Linked DNA regions of Homo sapiens: region 1 is linked to region 2. The links come from fine-mapping of genetic effects on gene expression. Tissue or cell type: lung. Region 2 holds a variant in brackets; the other region holds the start of a gene. All regions are shown on one strand. Distances are from middle to middle. Region 1 holds the start of TMEM260 (transmembrane protein 260). Region 2 overlaps TMEM260 (transmembrane protein 260).

What was found. PIP is the estimated chance that this variant, and not a neighbour inherited with it, causes the effect.
Region 1: it holds the start of TMEM260, and the variant in region 2 is fine-mapped to the expression of TMEM260 in lung (TOPMed, PIP above 0.99).

The regions. Positions count from the first base shown.
Region 1 is chr14:56,574,045-56,585,080 of GRCh38, forward strand. TMEM260 (transmembrane protein 260) reads left to right here and starts at 5,754. Exons shown (of 16, transcript NM_017799.4): 1 at 5,754-6,030; 2 at 10,957-10,988. The coding sequence starts at 5,871. RefSeq lists a silencer at 5,822-6,041.
Region 2 is chr14:56,612,661-56,623,696 of GRCh38, forward strand. TMEM260 (transmembrane protein 260) reads left to right here. Exons shown (of 16, transcript NM_017799.4): 8 at 3,284-3,367; 9 at 4,523-4,637; 10 at 5,934-6,103; 11 at 8,871-9,042. Among named protein-coding and RNA genes, the nearest start is that of TMEM260, 38 kb to the left of the region's middle. The variant G/A (reference allele first, on the strand shown) is at 4,519.

The sequences.
Region 1 (11,036 bases), 39 kb before region 2:
AGGCATTTGTCAGGGATATTTGTATCTCTTGCATTTTCCTATTGTAGATGGATTACCGGATGGTATTCTAGGCATCCAATTTCTAGTCTAAAGTTGCTAACCTTAAATTTCACTGATATTAGAAATATTAAGACATTGACTTTATATCAAGTGGGATTTGGGGGAATTAGACATCTAAATTGTAATTTGTAGGTGAATTTCAGTGCATTAATGTCTGTGAAGCTACTCTGAATGCTCAGAATAAAACAAAGAGGAGTGACTTTTGCTTTCAGAAAGATGAAATAGGTATTTTTTTTGAATTCTTCTTGCTAAGTACAACTAAACACACTGGACATTATATATAAAACAAAGATAATAAGACTTCAAAATGTGAAGAAAAAAAGGCAGTTGAGGCAGGAGCTCTGAAATCTGAAGAACAACAGAGTGGTGAGGTCCCTGGACTTCTTTTTCCCCCTTATATCACAGATTGGTTGCTAAAGAAGCTAGCAACCCAGAGATGCCAATGGGCCCAGACAAAAAAAAAAAAAAAAAAAGCCCCAACAAAAAGCCTCGTCCCTCTAGCTAAAAGACCAAGAAAGGGGCAAGACAGATACATTTAGAAAACAATCACTCTACTGTAGCCAAAACCAAAGAATAAACCATGAGGAAGGCTGAGTGGGCAGCCTAGACTTCTACCCTCTCCAGGTGCCTCCACATGCCACCAGGGTCATGTCAAAGAAGGCAAAGGAAGAAGCCAGAACTTTCATTCTGGTTGGGTGGTAATGAGACCCCTCTTCTCCATGGTGGCAGTGGAGACCACGTGGGGATCTTTGACTTCCACCCCTGCCCAAAAAGAATGAGGTCCCCCTTTCCCTCCCTTCTGGGGTAGTATCAGAGGCAGCCTAGTGAGAGTCAGGACTTTCACCACTGTCCAAGGAAAAGGAGGCCATCTCCATACCCCCATAACCATGTGGTGCTAGTGGAAACCACAAGTGGAATAGTGACGAGGACTCCTTTACCTTGCAGCAGGGAGGCAGCAGTAGAGGCCCGGCAGGTAGGTGGAATGTCCACCTCTGCTCAGCAATAATGAGGAGCCATCTCCTTGGTTTCAACAGAAGCTAGATGCTGGCCATAAATCCCAGGAAGACTCCCAGAGCCAAATTTAGGGTACCATAGGGCCATGGATCTATGTATTTACTTTCCGTCAATCTGATGTTCTATATCTAATTGAGTGTTCCCTGGCCTCTGTGATGTTCTTCGAATGTGTCAACTTGGCTTGGCTACATTCCTCAGTTTTTCAATCAAACACGAATCTTGGTGTTGCTGTGATGGTATTTTGTAGATATGACTAAAGTTCATAATTAGTTGACTTTTTTTTTTTCTCCAAGCAGAGTCTTGCTCTGTCACCCAGGCTGGAGTGCAGTGGCATGATCTTGGCTTACTGCAGCCTCTGCCTCCCAGTTTCAAGCGATTCTCGTGCCTCAGCCTTTTGGGTAGCGGGAATTACAGGTAAACACCACCACACCTGGCTTTTTTTTTTTTTTTTTTTTTTTTTGTATTTTTAGTATTGATGGGGTTTTGCCATGTTGGCCAGGCTGGTCTCGAACTCCTGGCCTCAAGTGATTCTCCCACCTTAGCCTCCCAAAGTGCTGAGTTTACAGCCATGAGCCACCATGCCCAGCCTCATTTGTCTTCAAAACCGTGAGATTATCATAGTTAATCTGGTAGGCCTGATTCAATCAGTGGAAAGGCCTTAAGAGCAGGGATATGGGTCCCCTGATGAAGAAAAACTTCCAGCTGTGGACAACAGCTTTCTGCCATGCCCAGGAGTTCCAGTCTTCCCTTCCTGATGGCATGTGCTACGGGCTTCAGAGTTACTTAGCCAGCCCTCAAAATTACATTATACAATTCCTTGCAATAAATTGTATCATACATATCTCCTACTAGTTCTGTTTCTCTGGATGAATCCCAAATTATTTACATATTTTTCTGCTTTATGGTTTGTATTATAGTGGCTAACTCTAAGCCATCATAGAATGATGTAGAGCACAAACAATAAATCAATACTCGTTATATGTCTTATTGGTCTGTCTCAGGATCAAGTCCAACGATCACATGTTTACACATCATGTGTAAAGAGAGACATCATGAGGTCTCTCTCTTTATCTCTAACATTTTCTATCTTCAACCCTTCTCTTCTGTCCTCCTCAGTCCCATCCTCTCCAATAACCTGTACATCTTTACTTCATCACTATGTCTCTCCAAATACTCCCTTGAGTTACAAACAAAACAAGACATTCAAAAATCTTCATTTGACACTTCGATCCCTGTGAATTTTCATGCTATTTCTCTCTTTCCCTTCACTGCCAAACTTTTTGCAAATGTATTTTATTTTCATGTCTTCCATTTGCTCACTTCTTAGCCCACTAGTACCTTGTTTCTGTAGATACTACTCTACTGAAGCTGACCTCTTGAACTTTCAAGGTTCAAATACCTCCAGGTCACCAAATCCAACCATGCAGAGCCTGCTAGTTGCCCCTCAGTATCCATTCTCCCCTTCTTCCTTTGTAATAGAATTCTAGGCAAACTGTCCAGCTGAAAAGTCTATTTCGCAGCATCCTTTGCCCCTAGGAGTGACCTGTTATTCAATTTTGGCCAATTAGATATAGCAAAATTGTGGAATAGCATTTAAAAAAATAGTGCTTTTTTAAAAAAGCTGGAGCAGGCCTTTCTCTTCCCATCCTTTCTTTTTCTTCCTCAAGAACAGATGTAATGTCTGGAGCATTAGCAGCCACCTTGGATCAGTAGATGACCTTGAGAATGTGAGCTGAGTGGGATGGTGCAGAAAGATATGAGGACTTCAGCTGTGTCCCTAGTGGAATCAGGGAGTTGCCAAGCCAGTGGTAGACTGACTTCCTATAGACTTCTGACTTCTTTTATATAAGAGAATGATTGTTTTAATGTTTAAGACACTGTAGCAGGATCTGTCACTAGTAGCTAAATGCAATCCCTAACGGATATGCCAGTGATCTCTGATTGTTCATGTATTCATTTATTACATAAATATTTGTTTAGCACCAATTTTGTGCCAGGCATCATTTTAAATATGGTGGAAATTAGACAAAGTCCATCAGGTTTGACAGGCTATTTAGACATAGAAATGGAGAGGTCGGGGGCAGTTGGGTTTTTTAAAATAATCGGTCGCTAAAAAAGAGAAGCAGAGGAGGTCTAATTTTGAGAAATATTGCCCCATAGTTGCCCTTTAAAGCTTCAATATGATCATCTCGGGAAAGAAGACAGAAAGAGAGAAAAGTCTAGAACAGCCCAGGAATACTTCAGCATTTGGGGGACCGACAGAAGCAGAGCCAGGGCAGGGAGGCCATTGATAAAAGGAAAACCAAAGAGTGTGCTATCAATGAAGGCCAGAAAAGAAAATACTTCCGGGGAGGAAGGAATAGTCAGATGCTTACTGAGAGGTAGAGTCAGACATAAACAGAGAACTGGAAGTTCTTAATCTTCAAAGGAAAACAACCATGAAGCTAATGAAGCTTAGGCCTCACAGTTCCTCTCTAGCCCAGGTGTCTTCCAATATCTTGTGCCTAATTCTGTATCTGCAGTTTTATATCAGTTTACTTACATATAATTCTCCAAGTTTTATACACTTGAGCTTCACAAAATCTAGACGTGCCTCTCTTCATTGTCCTTTACCTCTCTGTAACATCCTGACCACATGTACTTCATCGACTTTTCTTCTTTAGCTTCTGGTGATGCCTCATTCTCTTACACTGTTCTCTCCCCTTCTCCAGCCATTCCCTAAATGAGAATATGGGCTGACATTAGACCTCAACCTTGTTCTCTCTACACTATCCCCTTATCAAGTTAGTCATTTATATCATCCTTACACGAGCAACTCCTAAATTTGTACTTCCAGCACTGATCTCTACCTCCCAAACATGGACAAAGAATTATTCCCCTCCAAAATAAAAAAATTTTAAATAAAACTCATGAGCAAAAGTGAAATGCATAAAAAGGGAAAGAAGTATATGCTTGACCCAGTCAAGGTTACTCATTGGCATGTTCTTTCAGCAAAGAAATAGAAGACAGCCTATCTTAACTATCTATTGCTGATAACTAACAAATTAGCCTGCATTTATCAACTTAAAACAACATTTATTATCTCGCGGTTTCTATAGGACAGCAGTCTGGATGAGGCTTAGTTAGGTCCTCTGCTTCAGGGTCATCCACAGGCTGCAATCCAAGTCTTGACAGGAGTTATAGTTATCTCAAGGCTTATGTGGGGGAAGGATCCACTTCCTAGCTCCCTCACATGGTGTTGCCTAGATTCAGTTCCTCTAAGGTTGTTGGACTGAAGGTCTCAGTTTCTTGCCAGCTGTTGGCTAGAGGCGGCTCTCAGTTTCTTCCCATGTGGACCTTTCCACAGGGCAGCCTACACCATGGTAGGTGGCTTCATCAGAGAGAACAAGTGAGAGGACAAGAGGGAGTGCCAGCAAGATGAAAGTTAGTCTTTCATAACCTAATCTTGAAAGTGACATCCATCACTTTTGCCTTATTGTATTGATAGAAGCCAATCCTTAGGTTAAGCTCACACATAAGGCGAGCAGCTTATACAGGAAGTGAGTGAGGAGGCAGGGTTATCTGGGAATCCATTTTAGAAGCACTCTACCACACAGCCCCTCTCCTCCAGGAACTCACAGTACAGCTGAGAAATTACCTGGAAAAGGCTGGAAATTGTATAAGTACCTGGAAAAGACTAAGGTGTGCTGGCCCCATGACCGTCAAGGTAGGTATATGTTACTCTATAGTTTAGTCACTGTGTCTCTATCAAATTGCGCGTAACACGTTTGAGATTGTCACTGGTTTTCAGTGTGTCTTTGAGATACATTTTATGCGGGTTGCTCTCCTCCCCGCCCACTCCAGGATAATTGCTTTAATAATAAAACATAAGCTTAAAAAGCTTAACTGCGCTGTTATGTAGTTGTCCTTATTAACGGCTCCGATTCTTTTTTTTTGCGTTACAGCTCATTGTAAAATATGGTGATTCAATTTCATTTTCCACTTTGCTGTGTTGAAAGCTCCAGCAAAACACTCCTCTTCATTAAACTAGGAGACACCTTTATCATGGTTTGAGTTATCTGCATGAATACAGGAACTCAAATTTCCCGACTCATCTACAGAGTTTTCATTATGCTATGGAATGAAAAAAAAAAAAAAAGACGCACTAGCATATTCTAATCTCTCTAAAAATTACTCAGTGATTTAATAAGTAGCACACAGACTTATTGTAATTAGTCATAGTAACGTAGTAAATCGTAATAAATACATAATTGTGATTAATGTATTTATTGGCTTACTTTGCACATACGGTAAATACACCACCCTTTTTTTTTTTTTAGCACAGGTAGGGGCTCCTGGCTGATCGTGGCCCTTTTGTGCAGTTCCACCCCGCACCGTAGGGGGCAGGAGCAGCCCTTCCTCGCTCGCGGTTTTCGACGCTGCTTTGGTCTCTGTCAGACCCAACCAAGTCAGTATAAAAGGGGGGAATAGCCATGGAGAAGGTAGGCCTGTGGCCGGGCTTGCTTTTTAAAGGGAATGCTCTCCTGGTGATTAGGAACCTTAAATCACATTATAAGTAGGTGAACGCCAATGCGTGGTGCACTGCGGGAAAACTCGCAGGGCCTGGCTCAAGGGAGGCCTGGCATTTTCTCCTCCCCGCGCTCAGGCGGAGAAAGGTGCGGTCCAACCCGCGGAGGCTCGACCCGGAAGCCGCCGTGGCCGCCGCACAAGCTGCGCTCGTCTCTCGGCTGGGGAGCTCCGTGTCGCACCGGGTTCTTGGGCTGGCCGTGTCCTTCTCCCTCGGTCGCCACTGGCCCATGAGTCCCCATGGCGACGGCAGGGGCCAGGCCCAGGGGCGGGCAGTCCGAGTGGGGCTGCGGCGCTCCGGGGGCATCCGCGGCGGCGTGGCGGTGTTCGCCGCCGTGGCCGCAGTGTTCACCTTCACCCTGCCCCCTTCGGTACCGGGGGGAGACTCCGGTAAAGTACTCGCAGGGTTGCCCCTTCTGTCCCTCTCCCCTGGTCCCAGAACGGGCAGGGTCTGCGTCTGGCCCCTGCTCTTGGCATTCGGTCTGGTCAGCTCTGGGCCTCCATCCACCCCCCTGTGCACAGCGCACTATTGTGTGTTCCAGAGCCCACTTCTGTTTCCATTCCTGTCGTTGTGGTTTCTTTAGTTCTCAGGTTTTCGAGATGGGGCGTATTGTTGGTTTCGCCTGGTGGGGCTTATCGACCTCTCCACTTCCCCAGATCTTTTATCCTGGTCCTGAGTATTTACTTTCAGTCTTTTTTAGTCCACAGATATTATTCACGGTGTCCTTATTATGTTTCAAACAAAAGAACAGTAGTGGCGAACAGATAATTGCTAGTGTTCCAGTGCGGTTAGACAATACACAAGTTAATGAATAAACAGCATATTCACTGGTGATAAGTTATGGAGACAGTAGGAGGGAAATATGATTGAGAGTGGGGGTAAGTAGTGGGTCCTTCCGAATGACTATTCAGGAAAGACCTCTGAAGAGGTGGTGTTTTAGTTGAAACCTGAATATTGAGAAGGAACTAGCCATGCAGAATATTTGCAGGAGAACTCTTAAAAAGGTGGAAGCCAGGTGCGGCTGTTTCTATGAAAAAGAAAAGCATGACTCATTGGCCCTTAAATCACACTAATTGTTTTGTATTTGATGCAAGAAACAAGATCCATGTTTTGTTTTTGGATTCAATAATGCCATATCATGGCCAGTAATTTTGTCAGAATAGTGCTGTAATTTCAGGTGGTGAACCTATGGACTGAAGAAGCAGTTTTTGCTGCATGACTAGTGATCCCCAAATTGAGCAGCTTAAACAGCAAACGTTTATCGTCTCCCGTTTTTGTAAATCAGGAGTCTGGGTGCCGTTTAAGCTAGATGCTCGTACTCAGAAAAAGGTTGCTGTCATGGTGTGCGATGGGGCTGCGGTCTTCTCAAGGCTCAATTTGGGGAGAAACGCAATCTAGTTCTTTGCTATGTGGGTCTCCATAAGTTAACTGACTTCTGTCAAGAAAAAGATGAAGGACACCTCTCTGTCTGACAGCTCTGTCATTTTGTAACCTAATACTGTAAGTGATATACCACTTCTGCATTTTATTCCTGGAACTTCGTCAGTAAACCCAACCCATATTCAAGGGGGAAGGATTACACAGGTGAGAATATCAGGACTTGGGGATTAGTGGGGATCATATTTAGGGCTGCCTACCACGTTGAAGATCTTTGATGTTACATCTTCAAATTGTTACCTTTCTTCTTTCAGGTCCTGTTGCACAAGTAGGGATAGTGTTTCATTCGTGTAGTAGGGAGTTTCTGTACAGTGTTACCAAGATTGGTATTTCATAATGGAAGTAACTTTATAGTTGTGAGTTTTGGTGCTGGAGAGCATTATTCAGAGGTTAGGTAGTTCTGTTACTTGTAAAAAAATAAAAAGATTGACAGCTACTTATGGTTGGTTGAGTGTGAAGGATGGGAGTGAGATTTATAATAACTGACGTTTGTTGGGCACTTACTATGTGCCAGGCACTGTTCCAAGTGCTTTATATGGGTTGTTGTTTTAACCCTCCCAGCTACCCTTAAAAGTAGGTGCAATTATTATTTTCCTTTTATAAATGGGAAAACTAAGGCTAAGCTATGCCCAAAGTCACACAAAGTAGAGAAATCAGGAAAAGAAAAGTATATTGACTTCAGAATATGCCCCCTTAACCTCTACTTTTCGTCAAAACATTTCATGAAATTCTTTTCTAAATCCACCATCACATATGTAGTGATGTTTAAAATTTATTTAAAATCATGATTATTGCCTTGCCTTTATTAATACTGTATTTTATTTTTTCCTAAAAGAATAAAGTTGTGTATTCACCTTGAGTTACCAAACTTTAGGTGCTTTAATTTTGTTTGGTTTGATGTTAAATAGTGGTTGCTTCTAATATTTTTATGTTCATTTTTGGGAATGATAAACTGTTTTCCAAGTATATGCCAATATGGAAAATTTGCTTTATCGTATATTTGATAATTGTGTTTACATGTTGAATGCACTATTCTTGAATGTTTATGAATTATATTTTCATCAATAAACAGAACACATCTCAAAACCAGTATAAAGCATGTATTCTTCTTCCTGATAAGTCTTACATTTTACTCCATAGATTCATCACATTGTGTCGTCTTGCCAAAATTATTTTTTGTACCACTTGACACACACAGTTCATTTATGGGCAGGGTGCTTGTGGTGCTTTTCGGGGAGGGGGTAGGAATCTGGCCTTCACTAAATTAGTTTGTACGTGAGTTTATTTCAAAGATACTGTCTTTAACAGATGTGATGTGTGACAGTCTAGTCTAATTAATATTGAGAAGTATGATATAAAGGGAGCTGGTTTTTGTAAAGGTTAAGCATCTGCTGACAACTCTGGGCTTGCCATTAGTTTGTATTGCAGACAACAAAGCCGTGGTTCTCAGACAGGAACGTACTTCAGAATTACCTGGGAAACTTGAGCCCCCAGTGCAAGTGGGTCTTAGTAGATTATGGAATTTGGAGGTGTGGGCAAGGAATCTTCATTTTTAAAAAGCAGGTTAATTCTGATGCAGGTAGACACAACTGAGGAACCTTTCATGTAAAGGGTTGGGAGAAAGCCAAGACTCGGGAAGCTCGAGGTTTTTTTACTATTCCCTTCCTCTTTATCACAATCAATTTAAGAGTAGTATTTCCCTTTAGATCTTTATCAAGGTTACATTTAGAGACGTTGAATGGGGACATCTTTTCTATTTCGATTTTAGTTTAACATTTGATAAGAATTGATGAAAGTTTGTCACATTCCAGATTTATCTTTATAGCAGCAGAAGTCTGGCAAATAATAACAGCACACTGACTTTTCCATGGTAAAAAGAAGTTAGAGAAAAACAGCCTATTTTTCTTAATGTTAAATGTAATTCTGAATACATTTTAAATGGAGGAGAATGAATAGTGACCTTTGAAATTTTGAATTTATGGTGGCTTCGTTACAAAAAGATTACAGGAACAAAAAAATCGAAAATAGTTTGGAGCTAAAGACTTAAGAGCTAATCCATTATGGAGTAAACTATAAAATCATATCCTTTACAGTAGTTAACAAAGGGAACAGTTGTTTGAGACATTGTGAGACCATAAACTATTTAAAAAGAAGCATTTAGGATATAAAATGTGCTGGTTTCTCAGGTGCTCTTGAATATCTCTTAACAAATGTCCTTAAGTAATTGACTTAATCTGTCTTCAGGTGCCCTTATAAGGCTTCCATGATGCAGTCACCTAAGACTGGGGTGTCTTAGTAGCAAGGATGACAATGTGATGTGTATTTTTGTTAACCTCTGTGTGTATGGCTTGAATTGATGCTTTGTGTGTGGCCAGAGGGGAGAGGTGGTGGTATCCTGGCACGATCGTGAAATGGATAGGATAATGTTTTTAAACTTAGTGGGAGAGAGAAATGAAAACCAACCAGAATATAAGGCCATCTAAAGTGCTAAATAGACTCAAGCAGGTTCTATGGAGGAGGAAGAAGTGATTAATTCTGATGGGGAGGCTGGGGAAGCAGGTGTCTAAGGAAAGGTTACCAAGAAGGTGGCAATTGAACTTGGCCTTGAAGGATTTAGGGGGAGAATGCTAGGGAAAATATTCCAGGGTGAGAAAATGAGTGAGAAGAGGTGCAAAAGAGGACCACTCCAGAGAAACAGTGGGTAATAAGATTTGACTGGAGGGAACATAGGTTTCATGGATATAAGCCTAGAAAAGGGACCTTGAAACCATAGAAAGCTTGAACGTCATGCTGAGGAATCTGAACTTCGTTCAGTAAGCAGAGAGCAGCCATTGAGAAATTTTAGACTAGGGATGCAATCCAGCCTTTTGTGTGTGTGTGTGTGTGTGTGTGTGTGTGTGTGTGTATGTGTTTAGGGGCATGGGGGAAGGCAGGTGTTGATTATAAGTGATTTCAGTATGAAGATGAATTGAAGTAGGATTGGTCAAGTCTGTTGCCATAGTCCAGGCCAGAGAGAGTAAAGGTCTAAATTGTAGCTGGGACAGAAATTAAATGCAGAGTATTGCTATCTATGAAAGGATAGGAAGTGGACAGTAGTACATTTCCTAATAGGTACTAGTAACTTTCATGAGTCATTCATCAATATTGATTCCTTACATTGTACGGTACTACAATGTACAGGGATGAGTCAGAAATAGTCCCTGTGCTCTGAATACGTAAAAGGTTAACAAATAGGCATCAAATTACTGCATCATAATTTTAGAAATAGTCACTAATGGTGAGGAACTATAAAGGACTATGTAAAGAATATTATTTAATGGTTTGAAAAAATGTCTTACAGTGAACCTTACCGAAATAACGTGGAGTTAATAAACACTTGGAAATCATTTAAAGATATCCAGTGCAATTAATGTGGAGAAGATACCCAAATGCCAGTTTTAGGGTAGTATGGGACATTTTATGGAGTGTCCAAACCTCAGATGTCTGCGCATTTTACCTTACTATAAGGTTGTATCTTTATAGACTTTCGTGCTAATTTCTTGAGGGATAATAAAGCATATTACACTAATGCTCCAACAGTATTTGTATATTTGCAAGTGGATACAACTTTCAAGAGGGAAAATAAGCATTTTTTAAAGACCAGAATGTACCTATATTTCCACTGACCACTTCTTAAAGACTATCAAAGATAGTTTGTTCAATAAGACCTAAAGGAGAAAATATTCTTAGACTATTTCATGCTGTTAAATCTCTACAGATTTACAGTTTTATCCAGTCAAATTAATGCAAAACCCCAATGCAAGCATTTGGATTTTGAAAACTTTGGAGGAGTGTCATTCTCTAATAGTAATTATTGGTTTTACATTATTTTTTCACAGGGGAACTGATCACAGCCGCACATGAGCTTGGAGTAAGTATTAGTTTTATTGTTTAATCAATGCTCTCATTAACAGTTTTA
Region 2 (11,036 bases):
ACATCTGTATATGTTTGTACAGACAGTTTTTTCCCCAACTTTTTTTTTTTTTTTTTGATTTAAGGTTAATTGAATCCATGGAGGCAGAACCCATGGATACAGAGGGCCGACTGTACTGTCAAATATTTTTAGCACCTCCTTCACTAAGATAGAGCTTAAAATGAGCAATAAACACAACGGTGAATATTAGAATACTATATAGAGCATTTATAGAACTAAAATGTTTCAACCTTCAATTGAACAACTATTTTCTTGTTATTTTGGATTTTAGTATTTCAGAGTTTAATTTATGTAATGTCTCCTATGACTTCTTTAGGCTATCCTTGCCGTAAGCTCTATCTTTGGCTTACATATTTTTAACATCCAACCTTATTAGAGCTGGCTTAAGCAAATATATTTTCATGTATATTATTTAATAGTGTTCTTTGAAAACTGGGTTAATATTTGCTTTAAAACCTACAGATTAAGACAAGTGGAAAGATATCCATACCAACTTGATACAAAATTTTGGAAGAAAATAGGTTTCTACAACACTAAAGTGATGTCCTAACTAATTACTAATTTGGAACTCTTGGGGCTGTTTGAAAAAAAACTATGAGGAGAATATTTCAACTTTATATGTGAGGCAGTTTATGAGTTCTCACAGTTTCGGTGTAATTTACTTAATAGCTTGCTTTCTTCCAGCCATCCTTCCTTGCTTTCTTTTTAAACAACTTCTTTTTTCTACTTCAAAAAAGGTACATAAGCTTTATAGAAAACTTAGAAAATACAGGTAAGCAAAAATAAGAAAATTAAAACTACCTATAAATCCAACATGCAGAGATAACCACTGTTATTAATCTGTTAATGACTATATTTTTCTAATATTTTTAAGATTTTTATTTCTTTTTAAAAGTAGGATCATAGTAAACATACTGTTTTATTAGCCTGCTGTTTTTCACTTTACATTATATCTTGGAAATACCTCCTTGCCATCAGTTACTTTCACGTAACCTTTTGATGGTTCTCACCATTGATTGTAAATATTTCTTTTTATGTGTGAGACTTTTGTGGCTTTCTCATTTTCGCTGGGGGAATGTAACAAGAAGCTCAGTTTTCTTTTCAAAAATAAAAATGGCACTGAGTGCGGTGGCTAATGCCTGTAATCCCAGCACTTTGGGAAGCCAAAGTGGGAGGATCGCTTGAGCCCAGGAGTTTGAGACCAGCCTGGGCAACATAGTGAGACCCGTCTCTGCAAAAAAAAAAAAAAATTTTTTTTTTGAGATGGCGTCTTGCCCTGTCACCCAGGCTGGAGTGCAGTGGTGAGATCTCTGCTCACTGCAACCTCCGCCTCCGCCTCCCGGGTTCAAGTGATCCTTCCACCTCAGCCTCCTGAGTAGCTGGGATTACAGGTGTGTGCTACCACGCCCAGCTGATTTTTGTATTTTTAGTAGAGACAGGGTCTCACCATGTTGGCCAGGCTGGTCTCAAACTCTTGACCTCAGGTGATCCACCTGCCTCGGCCTCCCAAAGTGCTGGGATTACCAGAGTGAGCTAACACAACCGGCCTACAAAACATTAAAAAAAAAAAAAAAAAAGGCATGGTGGCATGCACCTGTAGTTGCAGCTACTCAGGAGGCTGAGGTGAGAGGATCGCTTGAGCCCAGGAGGTCGAGGCTGCAGTGAGCCACCTTCATGCCACTCCAGCCTAGGCAACAGAGTGAGACTCTGTCTCAAAAAATAAAAAAATAAAGATAAAGACAGTCAAATGTCATATCAATGTCTCTGAGCTTTCATTTTATTCTGCTTTGCTCCATGCAGAAGGACTCACTGCCTGCTCTTTTCTATCTACCTTCCAGAGATTGTTACAGCATTAAGGATAACTGGTATATTTTGTCTTAGCAAACCCTACATGAACTCCAAAGAACTCTTGAGAGTAATCCTAGACCATATGTCTAACTTTTATTAGTTGCACATAAAAGTCATCTATTGGGACCCTTAAAGGCCTCCTTTACATTAAAATAATAGCAGGCTGTATACCCAGAAAAAAGACTTGACAAAAGTGATGACCACTCACACCCACACTTCTGTGTTCTGTGTGGACCAAGTCATCATGTAGAATGAAGGCATAATCTTAGCACTCCCTGAATGAGAATGTCTAGTCTTTAATAGTTTCAGGTGGGCAGGAACATTGAAAAAGGCAACTCATAATTAACTTATGAGAAAATCCTTCAAAATGATAGAAGCTAATCATCTACCCTTTTCCAGTCAAGCAAATTAAATTTTTTCCCCATGCATATCTCTAAATTGCAATCCTGTACAAGGAAATTATTGAATCTAACCTTAGGCAGTGACCATCTTTTAGCGCTTACACTTAAGCAATAGATCTCCAAGAATAATTTTGAGACTGACTTCATTCCTTTTGAAGAATGGTTTGAAATGGGCCTCATGCTGGAATCAATTTTTTCAAGTGTATTTGAAAATGAGTAAGGATATCTTCTCATAGTAGATGAGTCTTCATTAGTAAAATACACATTGTATGGTTTCTATAATTATGGTATCACATTTTCTCCAGTAAAATTGCCGGTAGGGAGAAGAAAGTTCTTTGAGATGATGTATAGAGTCATTTCTTTTTTAACAATTGGAGACAGCTAGAGCAGAAGCTATTTTAGAACTCAAATTTTAACACCTGAAAATGCATATGAGTTAATGGAAGAATTTAGTTTATTTGTAGGAAAAAAACATAATACATTTCTCTGAGATTGCTTAAATGTTTTTTGAACCAAAACAAATAATATAGAAAACAAGGAAACCAATTAAGGAAAAAAATAACCCACAAAAGAATGGCTGGGAATTATCTCTCATGGCCTTTATTTTCTTCATATTAGATCTCCAGAAATCTATTTGAATTAATTTTGTTATCATTTGCTAAATCACTGGAGGCCATGTCTACACTGCCAAGAGAAAAAAGTTCAAAAACTCATTTCAAACAGCTTCCTACCAAACCAGTCGGGGATATTCTATACAGTATACCAATATAAAAAATACAGAAGAATTATTTGTTCTGATCCTATTCCAAATTATATAAGTTGATAACCAAATGTTACCATTGGAAAACGTCTTGGAACTATTTAAGTCTTTCTATTGCACTTTTTCTTCCAACTTTAAAAGACAAAATTTTAAAATCTGACCCCAGCCCTTGTGATTGTTCAGTATATAATCAATGGTATCTTACAAGGACTATTTTATTTGGAATCAATCAAATTTGTTTCCTGCCAACAATAAGTTAGATTGTTTTTTGCAGTTCTCAAGTAACAAATATGAGGACCGAACTCTCATTCAACATCCAAGCCCTTGCAGTTTGTGCAAATATATGTTTAGCAACAAAGTAAGTAATACAATTCCTTTTTCTGTTATTTTTCTATGTTCATGAATTGAATTAATGTTTTCAGTATGTCGCTGTAGGACATTGCCAGTATTATTTTATACTCCAAATAAATGACTCTCCTAGCTGTCTATTAAGATAAACGTGTATTGCTTTCTTCTATTCTGATTCTAAATAAATCAATGATTTCAAGAAATTGAGCATTATATTACATCTAAGTAGACAGTCATTTGATGTCCTAAACTTCAGGTTTGATCCCTTAACTCTGCTATAACCGATTATTATTGCTGATTTTAAAAAGAAGCAATAATTTAAATTCCTCTGATGATAAAAGTGATCCGATGACAAAAGAAACCCTGAAAAATGTAGCACTGTAAATCTCCATTAATTTATTCATTTATGATCTAGTCTGTTGAATGCATTTGTATGTAAATGTATATTTGTACATTTATCTATAGTTTTGTTTACTTGACACAAACATTGTGAACATTTTCTCATACTATAAAAATACTTAAAATCATTTAAATGTCTATATAATAGAACATTCTATGACCACAGGAGAATTAATTTAACTGTTCTTCTATTGAGAGGTCTTTAGATTGCTTCCACTTTTTCCACTATTATAAGTAATAACAAAGCATTTTTATGGATTAATCTTTATTTACATTTCTGGTTATTGCTTAAAGATTTATGCCTGCATGATAAATAACTGAGTCAATGATTATTAATATTTTTAAGGCTTCCGATATAGATATTATCAAATTAAATTTTCTGAAGGATTATACTAACATATATTGTCATACCACTGCACACCAACATTGAGAGTTATCGTTCTTAAATCTTTATTATTTCAAGCATGAAAATGTTTCTATTTTGCCTGTATTTGATCACTTCTGAAATTTAACAAAATCAGTAGTTTGCATTTCTTCTGTGAATGTTAGCTTTATATCCTTTACTGCGTAGTCCCAAGTTGTAGTTCAAATTTATTATTATATTTTGGTTATTTGTTTCAACTCAGATTTTAAAAACCGAAATCTCTCTTTGCTCCTAGTTAAAAATGGAAAGTTTTTATAGATCTAATAGTTTAAAGTCCTGTGATATTATATTTGACATTCATGTATCTAAATATTTTAGACATATTTTTATTATTTTTT[G/A]TAGGGACAGACAGAATCCATCATTAGTATGGCTTTTTACTGGAATGTTTTGCATTTATTCATTGTTCTTTGCTTGGAGAGCAAATTTAGATATTTCAAAACCACTTTTCATGGGTGTGGTAAGTTTTACTTAGATATATCCTTTGACCAGAAAGTTTGTGAAGAATGTGCAAATTTGCATTTCATAAATCTTGTAGAAGGGCAAATTACTTGAGGAATAGTTAAAATTTTATATACATTTTTATAAATCAAAGTTGAATTATTGAGTCAATACAGCTAAGGCCTCTTTTTAGGATAAAAAGAATGCAGTGTTTAACACAGTTGTTAAATAGAAAAGTAAATGTAAAGTAGATTTAAGTCATTGTATGTGTGTGTGCTTGCAAATATAGGTACAACTGCATTTCTCCTGGAATTTTTTTAACAGCAAAAGAAATATGAATTGTAATTGAGGGCACTTAACAACATATTTCCTTATTTCTTACCTCCCCAGTCCCAGGCCTAGGCAAAAGAGCAACCGTATTTCTGTTTTCTTTGGCAGCAGTCTCTGAGATTAGAGTATTTCTTCTACTTACAATAGATTCTCTGTAAATGTCAATAGCACTTTTTTGACAGCTGAAACAAAGTCTGCGTATGTGTGTGTTCAGGAAGCCTAATAAATAATACCCTACTTGATCACCTGAGTTCTGAATCAATTGAGAAACAAGGTAATACAGTACAACGGGTGGGAGAATCACTTTTATTACTGATAATACTGAGATTGGAAAATGCAGCTTATATCTGTAGCCAAGGGGGCTTCCTCTTCCAGCATCCCAGAATAGACAGATTTACCCACTAGTCATAGGCAGTGCTGTGCAGGTCAGGCCTCTTCCCTGTCTCCCCCACCCCACTGGTGCCACAGAGATAGACTCTAGCCCTGGACAAGTGCTTCCTGTGGGTAGCTCACTTCCAGGAGAAAGTGAGATGAAAAGGGAGGGCGCTGCAGGCCCAGTCCCAGCTCCCAAACTCCCCAGTCAGATCAGTCCCTACATCCTATAGGAGGAAATACGTGAGGGGTCAGAGACAGGCCAGGACAGTGGAGCTTCTCCATGTGGAAGGAAACATCAGGAGTAAAGCAAAAGCATTTCTCTAACTCCTTCAGCCTGTATATTACTGGAGTTCAAGACTAAGGCCACAGTATTGAAATGAATGTGTGGATCTGAAAAGGGAGATGCACCTGTCAAACTGGGAAGGAAGAATGTTTGAAAATAGAAAAATAAAATGACCTGGGCTTGGATTGGGGAAATCAGTTAACAAAACCTGAATGACAACAGGCACACACAACTAGGTGCATGCAGCATATTTAAAAAATATATGAGGAGCTGATTGATAGCATTAAATAGTCAACTGGACCCACTGGTTGCATGTCTCTTTCACAGGTGGAACGATTCTGGATGCAGAGCAATGCAGTAGTGGCCGTCCTCGCTGGCATTGGTTTGGCTGCAGTTGTGTCTGAGACTAACCGAGTGCTGAATAGCAATGGGCTTCAGTGTCTGGAATGGCTTTCTGCAACTCTTTTTGTAGTTTACCAAATATATTCTAATTACAGGTAATACATGGTTATTTTTATGAAAAGTAGCTGTCAAGCCAGAGATACCTGAATATTTAGATTCTAACACTTTATTTCATTGTTAACTTCTGGTTTTCAAGACTCAAAGTGAGACAGCTTGGTTGAATGCAGTAGTTCTTTAACTTTTAGGGTCGTTAAACCTAAAAGTTAAAGCATGGGCGATGAATGGTTTCAGGCCATTGCAAACAAGGGTTTAGGTGGTGCGTGTAGACAATTTGTATCTTTTTCTCTTAAGAACCCAAGAGATACTTTTAGAATCCCTAGTATAGGTAAAATTCCATGACCTAAAATACCACTTAGATGGAGAGTAAAATGATTTAGAGTTTTTTGTATACCCTAAAATAATTCACTTTATGCTTCCCTTTATGTCCAGTTTACTCTGTAGTAGTAAATACTAATTTTTTTGAGACAAGGTCTTATTCTGTCCCCTAGGCTGGAGTACAGTGGCATGATCGTAGCTTACTACAGCCGTGAAATTCTGGGCTCAAGCAGTCCTCTGCCTCAGCCTCCTCAGTAGCTAGGACTATGGACACATGCCACCATTAGCATGCCTTTTTTCTTTTTTTTTTGTAGAGACAAGGTCTCACTATGTTGCCTAGGCTGGTCCTGAACTCCTGGTCTCAAGCAAGCCTCCCTCTTCAGCCTCCCAAAGTGCTGGAATTAACAGGTGTGAACCACTATACCAGCCTTAATTATTTTTAAATTAAGTTCTAAAGTTTCTTAACTCATATATTATTAGTATTACATGTATTTTTCAAAAAATCTGTTTAATAACCATTACAATAAAAATCTCAGTCTGACATAAAAGACGTCTAAGTCTTAGACTATAGTTCGTTTATTTCCAGCAATATCAAGTACACATTATGGAAATGGAAGAGAGTCCCTTGGAATTTTGCTATAGTGAGATTGGACTGGTATTATTTTAAAGGATTACATTTTCTCTTTTAACTTAACTTTAAAAACCAATGTTCTTACCATTCAACCCTGCAATCTTATTACTGGGTATATACCTAAAGGAATATAAATCATTCTAACATAAAGACACATGCATGCGAATGTTTATTACAGCGCTATTCACAATAACAAAGACATGGAATCAACCTAAATGCCCATCAGTGGCAGATTGGAAAAAGAAAATGTGGTCCATATACACCATGGAACACTAGGCAGCCATAAAAAGAATGAGATCATGTCCTTTTTAGGAACATGGATGGAACTGGTGGCCATTATTCTTAGCAAATTAACAGAGGAACAGAAAACCTAATACTGCATCTTCTCACTTATAAGTGGGAGCTAAACGATGAGAACTCATGGATACAGTGAGGGAGAACAACAGACACTGGGGCCTACTTGAGAGTGGAGGCTGGGAGGAGGGAGAGGATCAGAAAAAAATAACTATTGTGTGCCAGGCTTAATACCTGGGTGACGAAATAATCTGTGCAACAAACCCTGTGACGTGAATTTACCTTTATAACAACAAACCCACACGTGTACCCTGAACATAAAATAAAAGTTAAAAAAACCCACAACATTGTTCTTTATAATACTGGGGTAGAGCTGGTGTTAGGAAGGCCACCAGGAGGCCTTGAGAGAAGGGGCTGCGTGTCCTGGACACAACATCATCGCTAGCTCAAGAAGGTGCACCAAGCCCACAGTGTGTTTCCCAACCTTTTCTTATCCCAGTCATCTCCTGGCTCAGGCCATTAGGGCAGTCCAGGTTCGACACCAGACATATTTGCACAGGCTAGGTGTTTTTATCTTGTTTTGATTTTTTTTATTTGTCCCAGGGGAATGGAATACATAGCACTTTTGCTAGGTGGCAAAATGTGCCTCATCACTCTGCAACATAGGGAATCAGGTAGGAAACAGTAATTTTTACATCAATTACAAAGGCAGGGATAATATTCTGTTCCTAGAGGTGTTCATTTGTTTTGTGATACCCCAGATATTCTCAGCTCCATCAAATGTAATGGACTTGGTAATAACAGAAAGGACATTGCTTGTCTCATTTTTTGATACTAATTACTGTTTTGTCATCTTTTTCTTTTTTCATAGAATGCTGTCAGAATTCATGCCAGTTTTTCTTTGAAGTTAGAAAGTTAACTTCATTCTTGAAAAGAATGAAGTTATTGGCAATAGCAAATAATGCCTGGAGAGAAGTAAACAACTCAGGAAACTCGTCCTCCCCTTGCTTCTCATTGGTCTCATTCCCTAGCAATTTCTTGATCTCCAAAGGCAGAGAGGGACACAGGAGGCCTGTGATTCAGGGGAGAAGTGGAAAGGATCAACCTCTGCATGCAAGAAAATCATACAAATGCCATACAAATTCAAGTCAGAAATGGGCAGATTTCCTTTTGCATTTCTGAAAGTTCCTTTGAGTAAATGGAATGAACATAAAATTGCCTTAAACTCCAAGTGGAATCAGAAATCTTACTTTCTAAAAATAAAATTGGATTGCACTTAGGGGGAAAAAAGGACCTATTCTTGTGTACTGATTCCCTTTTTCTGGAAATGATTATAAACTCCAGAAGTAAGCAGTAGACTGATTTTTTTTCAATTGCACAATTAGCTGCTGCTTATCAGGTGATAGTATTCTCTCTTCAAATATACATATTATTTTAGAATGTATTGAAACACTAAATGTTGATTGTATGATGGGAAAAGAATGGCATAGAAAATAAGCCTAGTCTTATTAAAACTGTAGCAAAGTGTTGCTATTTTAATTTTTTTGGATCCTTTTATTTAGTGTTTGTGACCAAAGGACCAACTATGTGATTGATAAGTTCGCAAAGAACCTTCTCACCTCTATGCCTCATGATGCAATTATCTTACTCAGAGGAGATTTGCCAGGAAATTCTCTCCGTTACATGCATTACTGTGAGGGGTTGAGGCCTGACATTTCATTAGTGGATCAGGAAGTAAGTATATGAAAAATATACTTAGAATATAGCGATGATTTAAAAACATATGTTTTGGAAAAAACATCTTTTTTAAAATGGTGGACGGGTACAGTTTTCATGATCACTGTTAGGTAGAATATATATGACATTCTACATGTTAGGTAGAATATATATGGGCATACTTTTTTTTATTTTAACTAATAGTGTAAGTCACACTAGTTGCTTCTTTCTCATTTAAAAACATTTAAACTGAACGTTTTAAGAATTAATGTGTTTCATGTTAGATTCATAATGTTTTAGGTCTCTAGTTCATGTGACAAACCATAAAAGTGTTTGTTGTATGGTAAATCTATTTTTAAATTGTTATTTTACATTCAGGCCGGGCGCAGTGGCTCACGCCTGTAATCCCAGCACTTTGGGAGGCTGAGGCTGGCGGATCACGAGGTCAGGAGATCGAGACCATCCTGGCTAACATGGTGAAACCCCGTCTCTACTAAAAATACAAAAAATTAGCCGGGTGTGGTGGCACGCGCCTGTAGTCCCAGCTACTCGGGAGGCTGAGGCAGGAGAATGGTGTGAACCTGGGAGACAGAGTTTGCAGTGAGCCGAGATCGTGTCACTGCACTCCAGCCTGGGCAACAGGGCGAGACTCCGTCTCAAAAAAAAAAAAAAAAAAAAAAATTGTTATTTTATATTCAGCTAACTCAACCATTCAAATTTACCTTGCCCATTGGTCCAGGGATTAAAATAAATTATATTGAATATGAAATAAATCATACTGTAGGTAAGTAAACATTTCACTCAAAATAGAAATTATTAACCATAATTATGCTATAGAATTTTTATATAAACTTTCTTAATGCTGTGACAAAAATACATTAAGAGAGGACTTGTGAAAATTTTGAGGGCTATGAAAACTTTTTTTTTCATTGAAGAACTATTTAAACTAAGATTTATTATTTAAGCCATAGATACATAAAAGGGAAGAAACCTGTCTCTGGTGTTTTTAGAGCAGTCATTAGGAAAAGAGAAATTCTTAATCTTAAAAGAATAATATGATGAATTCAATTGAACAAATTATTAGGCATAGTACTTAATGCACTTTGTTGAATTAATGAATAATTATAATTTTTGGAGAAAACTTTATAAACAGATTTGTAAATATACAATTTTACATTTTTATAAGCAGTTGCATTTATATCATGGATGCCGATTGATTAATTTGAACTTCAGTCTAGATTCTGACAAAAGCTATGTTATTTGTTAATAACATGGTTCCACACTATGATTTTAAACACTGTTTAGAATGTCAGCTCCTGTAGTTGAGAAGCATGGATTAGAAAGTGAATTAGACCTAAACTCAAGTCCTCATTCTGTCACTTCCTGGATATGTGACATGGGGCTAATGATTTTTCCTCTCAGAGCTTCTGTTCCCTTATTTATGAAATGTAAGTCATCATTATGTAAGTTAGGGTGCATTTGAATGCAAGAAACAGAATACCTGACTTAAATGACTGAGTTTTTAGCCTCACATGAGACGCAGTCTGGAGATAGGTGATGTTAGGATTGATAATATGAGCAGTTCAGGGACGTCAGTTTCTGAGGCAGTTTTTCTGCCATTCTCTTGACTTTTCCCTCCCAGTCACAGGATGCATGCCCAGTTCCAAACATCACAACCTAAAACAAAGCACAGTGCTTCTTCTGGGGTATCTCCCTCTCTCTATTTATTGGAAATAACATGTGCCCCAGAAGCCCCCCAGCAGACCTCCACTCAGGCCCCACTGACCAATACTGAGTCATATACTCACACCTAAACTGCTTATTAGCAAAGGAGAATGACTAGACTGAGAACATTGCAGCCTGAGCTACCTGATCAAAATGAAGATTGCATTAGTGAAAAAGAAGAAGGTATTCACTGTTGAGTGGGCAATCAACAGTGTCTGATACAGTTATTCTCACATAGCAAGGTTATTTTGAGAACCAAATGAGGAACAGTAAAGTCCATAGCACAC